Regions from separate parts of the Homo sapiens genome. Here region 1 is linked to region 2. Evidence: fine-mapped expression QTL. A gene starts in region 2. The other region holds a variant in brackets. All regions are shown on one strand. Distances are from middle to middle. Region 1 overlaps CCDC69 (coiled-coil domain containing 69). Region 2 holds the start of CCDC69 (coiled-coil domain containing 69).

Region 1 (4,379 bases), 42 kb after region 2:
TTGTCTCTGTCCTGGCTGAGTGTACTCTGTGGGAAAGCCCAATATAGGGAGGAGGAAACAGGAAATTTATAGTGCACCAGGCCTAAGTGGAATGAATCAGTTCTTAGGGCTTAGTAAATAAGAGCTAGTATCATGTGTCAGACATAATTTATTGAATACTGTACATATTTTCTCATCTAATCCTCATAATTACTCTAAGAGCTGGGTCCTATTCTTCTTCTTCCCATTTTACAAATGAGAAGACTGAAATTTAAGAAGAATGAATAACTTATTCAAGATTATATAGCTAAGTGGTAGAGCAGAGATTTGAAGCAGCTCAGAACTGCCTGCCTGTCTGTGAGGCCCCCGCTCCTTGGTCAACAGATTGAATTGCCTCTTGTATACAGGCCAACAAGGAGGGCAGTGGGGACCCTGCAGCAGGCTGCTGGTCCATCTAAGGAAGGCTTCCTGGGGGAATGGGTTGGTCTCTGTGGCAGCTGCTCCCAGTAGGCAACCCTGGGCTCTGTGTGCATCCACAGGCAGCTGTCAGAAGACCTGCTTCTCACGCGTGAGGCCCTGGAGAAGGAGGTGCAGCTGCGGCGACAGCTCCAGCAGGAGAAGGAGGAGCTGTTGTACCGGGTCCTTGGGGCCAATGCCTCGCCTGCCTTCCCTCTGGCCCCTGTCACTCCCACTGAGGTCTCTTTCCTCGCCACATAGGGTGCAGGGCCTGGGCCCACCACGACGCCTGAAGTCACAGCTCCTTCCAAGGTTTTTCTGGAGAAGACAGCAGGAGCCTCTCAGTTCTTTTCCAGGAAGGAACGAGGGTGGGAGCGAGATGGAGATCCTGGGTGTGTGCCCAGTGAGCCCTGGGGCCTTGAGTTACATGGAATCACCCACAGGGTTTTGGAGGCCCCGAGAAGCGTCTTCCCTTGAGTTGGCCAAGGGAATAAGCAAGAGGAGACATTTCCTCCCTGCCCCAGCACTCTGTCCCAATCCGAGAAGTTCCGAGGCTTTCCCAGGGGCAGTCTGTGTCACGCTGGCCATTTGACATAAAGGAGACAGCCCCTGGTCCCAGCTTGTCAGCTCTGCTGCCGACTTGCTGACTTATCAACTTCCTCTAGGTGTTTCCACTCCACCCTGGCCTGCTCAGAGCCTCAGTTTACCCCTGCATTAAAATGGTGGGGGGACTGGTCAAAGGACTCTTATGTCACTGCAGTGTCCCATTCTAGGATTGTCTGAAGGCCAGAGTAGGGGTTGGGGGGAGTGTGGACAAACCCCGCAAATCAGAGTGGGGAAGGTGAGTGGTAGAGAGGGGGTCTCTGAAGGCCCTTGGGGCTGACAGGGCCAGGCAGCCTCCCCAGCTGAGGCATCATTCCTGGGCCAGAGTCGTGTCCACCAAGGGACAGTAGCCAGAGCTCCTCTTCCTTTACCAGGCAAGGTGCATCCCCTCAGCCCTCCTGGCCCTTCAGTCTTGGTGCCACCTGGGCACAGGGGCAAGCTTGGTGGTTGTGAGTCCATTCATCTATCAGAGCTGGAACCTCATCCCTGCACAGATGAGGAAACCAAGGCATGGAGCAGTTCCCAGAGTCGAATCTAGATCTCATCTGTCATCCGGGTCTTATCCTTTGCTCTGTTTTTCTCTTCAGGCTCTGGAAAATCAGATCTGTGACTTAATCTTCCTCTCCCTGGCCCTCACCCACTTAGTTTCTTTTTCATTCCTGCTCCCTGCCTTAACTCCTCCTCCCACTGCCCCTGATCCCAGGCCCAGGCTTTTACAACCTGGTGCTCAGCTTCCCCATCAGTGAAAAGGGGTGGCTAGAGTAACTAACCTCAGCAGGCCGTCCAGTCCTGATAGTCTGTGGATTTCGGATCCTTCTCAGGAAGCTTCATGTCTAATGGAGACTATAATTATAACTCCTGTTCTGCATAGAGCATTTGCATCAAAGGCTTTCCATACCCCTCCCTCCCCTGGTCCTCATAAGATCCTTGAAGCAGGTTCCTATTCCTCATTGGCAACATGGCAAACAGATCACAGGAGTCAAAGGGCCTTGCTCAAGGTCCCCAGCTTCAGCCCCAGGCCCTAAGCCAGCGTCAGAACAGTCAATCTGCATTTTTCATCAGTCATTCTATAGTGACATCATCCCAGACTGCCTTCTGTATTCCCCTGTGTACAGTCTCCTTCTGTTTCTAGGTTTAGAAGTTCAGAGGTGACTGTGTTTCTCCATTTCCACAGCCAAATGGGGGAAGAGGTGAGGCTAGGGGAGTGCTGTGCTGATTCTCCAGCCATGGTCAGACAGGTCACCCAGGAGCCTCGAGGAAAGCCCTGGAGGGAATCACATGTGTACTTTTTCATGAAGCTTTTTGCAAAGCACATCTG[C/T]GATACACTAGTTTATTGAACTAATGTCCAGGAGTAGACATGATTGGTGGCCAAGTTATTTGGGGACACCTAAACAGATCAGTGACCTGAATGACTTCTCAGAACCTTTAATATGCCAATGTGTGTGGCAAACTTACAAGAAGGGAGCTAAGTATCCAGCCTCTCCCAAACCTCTTTGAACAAAGCTTCTGTCCCTCCCACACCTCTCACCTCACAGGCACATCAGGCTGCAGAATGCGCTTTAGAAAGCATTGTTTTAGTCCAGGCACAGTGGCTCACGCCTGTAATCCCAGCACTTTGGGAGGCCGAGGTGGGTGGATCACAAGGTTGGGAGATTGAGACCATCCTGGCTAACACAGTGAAACCCTGTCTCTACTAAAAAAATACAAAAAATTAGCTTGGCGTGGTGGTGGGCGCCTGTAGTCCCAGCAGCTTGGGAGGCTGAGGCTGGAGAATGGTGTGAACCCAGGAGGCGGAGCTTGCAGTGAGCCAAGATCGCGCCACTGCACTCCAGCCCGGGTGACAGAGCAAGACTCCGTCTCAAAAAAAAGAAAAGAAAAAAGAAAGCATTGTTTTAATTGAGAGGGGCAGGGCTGGAGAAGGAGCAAGTTGTGGGGAGCCAGGCTTCCCTCACGCAGCCTGTGGTGGATGTGGGAAGGAGATCAACTTCTCCTCACTCTGGGACAGACGATGTATGGAAACTAAAAAGAACATGCGGCACCTTATTTATGTGACTTTTGTGTTTTTCTGGGAGGGTGGGGAGGTGGGTCTTCACAAGGACTTCTGCCAATGGTGGGGATCTCTGAAGAGTAAATCTGGGGCCTGGGTAGCCCACTCGTGGTTCTGGGCACTCTCCTCAAGCACCAAAGCCCCACTGGCCCTTGCTTTGCCCTAATTGTGGATGTGGGGCCTGGGGCTAGGGTGAAGCCTGGATTAAAGGATGGCCTTCAAAATAGACCAAGGCTTGGAGTGAGGCTGAGGTTGAAGTAAGTGGTGAAAACAGAGGGATGGGGTGGGAGAGACTGCGAGGATGAATGAGAAGTCACCTTCTGCACTGCAGGACCCCTCTTTGGCATCAGAAACACTGATGTTCCCACAGGTACCTACCCCTGATTCTGCCTATTGCTCCACATCCAGATGCCTGTGGCCAGGGAGGGAGCTAGGAAGGGGTAGAGGAGACACGAGGACCTCGAGTCACGTGGACATGGGTGGTGGCCAAACCAGTGCCCTGAAGGTTGGTGGCCCAGCAGGTGTAGACACCAGCATCCCTAGCCCAGGTCCCCTCCACATACAGGGTGCCCTCTGCCTCCTGCTGTACCTGGCTCTCCCCGTGTACCACATGGGCCTGTTCACTGATGTAGAGTGGTTGGCCCAACGGTAGGGGATAAAAACGGACTGTCCATCAGCTGCCCCAGGTGCATCTCTGACTCACACACCAGGGTCAGGTAAGAGGCACCATTTATCTCTTTGGGGAAAGGAGAAGTGACTTGCCCAAGGTCACACTTCAGCTTGGTGTCAGAGCACCTTAAAGGCCAGGTTCTTTGTGAAAAACGTTAAGCTTCTCAAGTCTGCAGAGAAAAGCTGGGTTTCCCTCCCCTTCTCAAAGAGTGTCCAGAGGTAACTCAGTCCAGGGAAGTACTTCCCAACGTGGGTTTTGTGGCCCTCTGCTTCTGTAGGGATGCTACCTCCTCAAAGGAGAGGAAGAGGAAGAATTTTACTACCAAAAGTGTTTTGGAAACATTAAGAAAAGCAAAGTGAAATTGGGTAGACTCCGACCACTGAGTCTGTTACATGTACCTGTGTATTTTGAATCTCCAAGACAGGTAATGGTTATAAGAGGAAGTGAGGTAGGGTGGGAGGGAACTTTCTGGTATTCCACCCTTCTAAAGAACATGTTGGGGAAATCCTGGTAAAGCCAAGCCAGTGTCTCCTGACCGTCTGTATGCTCCTTTCCCCTTCTTGGGTCTCAGTTTCCTCTTCTGACAAGTGGGAGAATGATCCTTTACCCTTTCCAATGCCTAAG
Region 2 (4,379 bases):
CTGTGCCTGGCCTACAAAATTTTTTTTTTTTAAATTAGCTAGGCTTGGTGGCAGGCACTTGTGGTCTCAGCTACTCGGGAGGCTCAGGTGGGAGGATCACTTAAGCCTGGAAGACTGAGGCTGCAGTGAGCCATGATCACTCCACCGCCCTCCAGCCTGGGTGATATTGCAAGATCCTGTCTCAAAAAAAAAAAAACTGTTTTAAAATTTCAAAATCTCACCAATACAGTGGTAGTCACTCAATTTTTTTTTTTAATGAAAATGAGTTTGTTATGTTTTGTAACACAAAAAATTCATCTTCATCAGTATTTTTGCTGGTTATGTGGCATTCTATTTTTATGGATATAGCATAATGTATTTAACCAACCTTCTTTTCTTGGCTGTTTAGGTTGTTTTGGGTTCTTTGTTTTTAATCATGAGCACTGTTCCAATAAACATTGTTAATTTTAGTATAATTTAAGTATATCCTGTTTCTTCAGTACCTGTGGAGCACGTCCTATGGCAGGGGTTCTCAAACTTTAGCCCAGGCCAGACATGAGTGGAGTGCTTATGAAGCCATAGATTCCTAAGCCCCATCCCCAGAGTTTAGGCCAGGGGTGGGGCCCGAGAATTTGCATTTCCAACAAAGGCGGCTGGTAGTGCTGACACTGCTGATTTGGGAATCACACTTTGTGAGCCACCATTCTCTATTATACTTGCTTTTGAGAACCTAATAACACGTTTCCTTAGTTTCCTTTCTTACACACTTTTGCAATTGGTTTTGTACCCTATGGAGGGAGCAATTTTTTTGAGGTCTCATATTCTTTCCCCATTCATGACTCTAAGCCGTTTTCACAGCACACCTTTCCAAGAGTTTTGGGCCTGACTTTAATATTCCAATATACACGCAAATAGGCATACACACTGATTTTCAAAATTGGTTATCTTTTTCCTGCATTGCCATTTCAGAAACCTCAGCTAATAACAAAGAGAAGATAAACAAAAGCTCCTTTTCCTAGACACTGACATTTTATGTCCCATAGTCACCATACCTGGCCTGCCTCAAGAGGTTGTTGTGATGAATAACATCTATCCAAGATGGATAGAGTCAAATATTACAGATGCTTGTGAGGTGGAAAAAACTATCAGCCCAGAAGTGAGGAGGCATTAAAATTAAACTTAGTATTATTGGCCAGGTGTGGGATCCCAGGACTTTGGGAGGCCGAAGCGGGCGGATTACCTGAGGTTGGGAGTTTGAGATCAGCCTGGTCAAAATGGTGAAACTCTGTCTCTACTAAAAATACAAAAATTAGTTGGGTGTCGTGGTGCATGCCTGTAATCCCAGCTACTGGGGAGGCTGAGGCAGGAGAATCACTTGAACCTGGGAGGCAGAGGTTGCAGTGAGCCAAGATCGTGCCACTGCACTCTAGCCTGGGCAATAGAGCGAGACTCTGTCTCAAAAATAAATAAATACAATAAACTTAGTATTATGATTTATTTGTAGGCCATTGAGTCAAAGTTTAGGTTCTGGAGTTAGAACTGTATTCTGTGCAGTGGCTCATGCCTGTAATCCCAACGCTTTGGGAGGCCAGGGTGGGAGGATCGCTTGAGGGCGGTCGTTCAAAATCAGACTGGAAAAAAGAAAAGAATTTGGTTGGGTATGGTGGTGAGCCTCTGTAGTCCCAGCTACTCAGGAGGCTGAGCTGGGAGGCTCGCTTGAGCCCAGGAGTTTGAGGCTGCAGTGAACTATGATAGCGGCAAAAAAAAAAAAAAAAAAGGAACTGGATTCTATCTGGGCTGTGGTAACTTACTAGCCATGTGACCTTAGGCAAATCATGTTGCATCTCTGAACACCATTTTCCTCACCTGTAAAATGGAGGAAGTAATACCTTTGTTGCACTGATATGGCAAGAAATAGAAATAAAATGTATAAAACAACTGGGACAAAAACAGCCCTCAATGAATGATAGTTGTTAGTTTATCAAATAATTGCTTTAATTATTTTTTCCCCCGGCCCTTTCTTAGCTGAGGGTTCGGAAAAGCATCTGTTGCTCCTTGAGGTTTTCTTTTCTTCTGCCCTGACCAGAGCTTCCTATTATTTAGAAGGATTCTGGTCACCTGCCTCTGGTGGCGGCGCCGCTGGCCCTGCGGGCTACACTGAGGCCCCGCTCTTCGGGTATTTACGGCGGGCGGCCGCCCCAGCTCAGGCTCAAGACAGCGCTTCCAGGTTCAGTTTCAGGGTCTCGCCGGCAGCCCCAGCCGGCGGGCGCGGAGCGGGCAGCGGGGCCCGGATCGCAGGCTCCTCTGGGGGCCCCGGAGTTGGGAAGCGGCGTCCGGGAGCCCCCGGAGGAGGATGGGCTGCAGACACAGCAGGCTGAGCAGCTGCAAACCCCCGAAAAAGGTAAAGGGCGCCGGCGGAGAAGTTTGCTTTCAGAGGAGAGGGGAGTGCGGAATCGCTCCGCCGCAGAGGACTCGGCGCCCCGGGCTCTCTCTGGTCGGCCCGGGATACCGGACGGAGAACCTGGAGAGGCCAGCTCAGAGACGAGGGAGGCTCTGCTGGGAGGCGCCCTTTACCCCGGCCCGAGCCGCACCAAGCAGCCGAGTTTACAAACACGGCACCCGGGCCAGGGAAAGGCAGCTGATTCCCGCTGCCTCGGGTGGGGAGATGTCGTGTGTCTGTGGCAGGTGCCCTCTGCTTTCGGTCTGGGGCTGTTCGCTGTGTGGCCATGGACAAGTGACTTGACCTCTCTGGGCCTTCGGCTTCCTCCCCCCGGGGGTTAAAGGCTGATAATCTCAGGGCTGCTCGAAGAGTGTTCCACAGACTCGCAGTATCAGCATCCCTGGGGACCTGTCAGAAATGCAGAATCTCAGGCTCAGGCCCAGTCTTGCCAAGACAGAAGCTGCCTTTTAACAATATGCCCAGGTGATGACGCTTTAAAGTTTGAGGCGCTGGTCTTAGGGCTCTTGCAGGCCCCAGAGCTGGTGAGTGTGGGCTGCCCTTGGGGTAGCTGGGAGGGGCCAAAGAGGGAGGAGATCTACTGCGTTCTGTGGCCCTCTCCTCCCTTCCTGTCCTTCCCCCAAGGGGCCTTGGAGCTGGGTCAGGGCCCAGGGGACAATTCTCAGGTTTCTTGCAGTGAGACCAGCTGCCCCTTGGGGTCTGACGAGCCCAGAAGGTCAGAGCCTGGAGCTAGAAAGATAGCCTCCTCAGGGGACACTGTGAGGCAGAGGGGAAGAAGGACCCTCAAATTCTGGCCCCTTTTCTTACCACTACCTGCCCCCTAGCCAGGTGGGACTAGGTGATCCCTTAAACTTTATCATCATTCCCCCTTGAGACCTTGAGAGGCCCCAAACTGTGACAGTGTTTAATAGTTTTGCAATGAACTTTAGTCCTCCCTCTGCTCCTGCTTTGCTTGTGCCCTGAGTACAGGTTTTTCTGCCTAACAGTAGTCCTAGCCTGGAGGATTCTACTCCCTTCTCTGACACCTCCTGGCTTTCCTTGCTCTCCCTTTATTACCAGATTGAAATTCTCACCAACTCCTGACCTAGAAACCCTCATGTCTTTACTCACTCCAACAGGGAAACTGAGGCTTGGCTCTATCAGTAGAAGGAAGGGGCTGGCTGACAGGGATGACAAGGCGGAGAGACCTGAGCCTTGGCTGAGACTTGTAACTGAGCAAGTGGTAGGCAGACATTAGCCCTGGGTGTAAGTCCTGGTGGTGCCATAAACATACTGGGTGACCCCAAGCAAGCCCTTGTGTCTCCCTGGGTCTCAGTTTCTCCCTGTATGGGGAGTGATGAGCAGGATGATCCCTAAGCATCTGAGAGTCTGTGTTCTCTGCACCTGTGTCAACCTTGTAGCTTGCAAAGTGGACCAAGGGTGAATTCCATCTACCTAGAGGTGGAGGAAACGGGGAAGAGCCTGACCCTTCCACAAGCTGGAAGAGGAGGTCACAGTAAGCACAGGTTCTTTGGCTCCTGCTCCTTCTGAGAGACTTACCAGCTGTTCCTGCCTGTCCCTGGCACAGCCAAAGCTCTGAAGGGCAAGTAAAGCTGGCACAGCCTGTCTGAGTTGGAAAGGGCCTTTGGGTACTACCTGGGCTGACGCACCCACTATACAGATAGGAGGTTAAGGCCTAGAAAAGGGAAGGAGCATGACTGAGGTCACAGAGCAACACAGAGCAGAACCCAGGTATCTAGTCCCCTAGCTCCGTGTTCTTTGTCTCCACCTCCTCCCGCTGTGCTTCCAGTGGCTTCTTGATGACTTTAGCGTAAAATCTTTTACTCCTGTTGCCTCAGAGAACAGCCTGGCATGCCTTCTTGGCCCCAGCCATGCCAGGCCCCTGCCCCTATATGGCAAGATTTATGGGCTGTTTTTGTTTAAAGTTCTCATCCCTGTAGGC

Evidence for each region.
Region 1: its variant is fine-mapped to the expression of CCDC69 in whole blood (INTERVAL, PIP above 0.99).

The regions. Positions count from the first base shown.
Region 1 is chr5:151,179,754-151,184,132 of GRCh38, reverse strand. It overlaps CCDC69 (coiled-coil domain containing 69), which reads left to right. Exons shown (of 9, transcript NM_015621.3): 9 at 519-3,081. The coding sequence ends at 696. It also overlaps the pseudogene PDGFRL2P. Among named protein-coding and RNA genes, the nearest start is that of ANXA6, 24 kb to the right of the region's middle. The variant C/T (reference allele first, on the strand shown) is at 2,357.
Region 2 is chr5:151,221,924-151,226,302 of GRCh38, reverse strand. CCDC69 (coiled-coil domain containing 69) reads left to right here and starts at 2,211. Exons shown (of 9, transcript NM_015621.3): 1 at 2,211-2,380. The coding sequence starts at 2,333. It overlaps LOC105378230 (a long non-coding RNA gene), which reads right to left. Exons shown (of 4, transcript NR_160730.1): 4 at 1,953-2,827. RefSeq lists silencers at 481-775, 2,259-2,338 and enhancers at 2,459-2,658, 2,679-2,788, 4,209-4,379.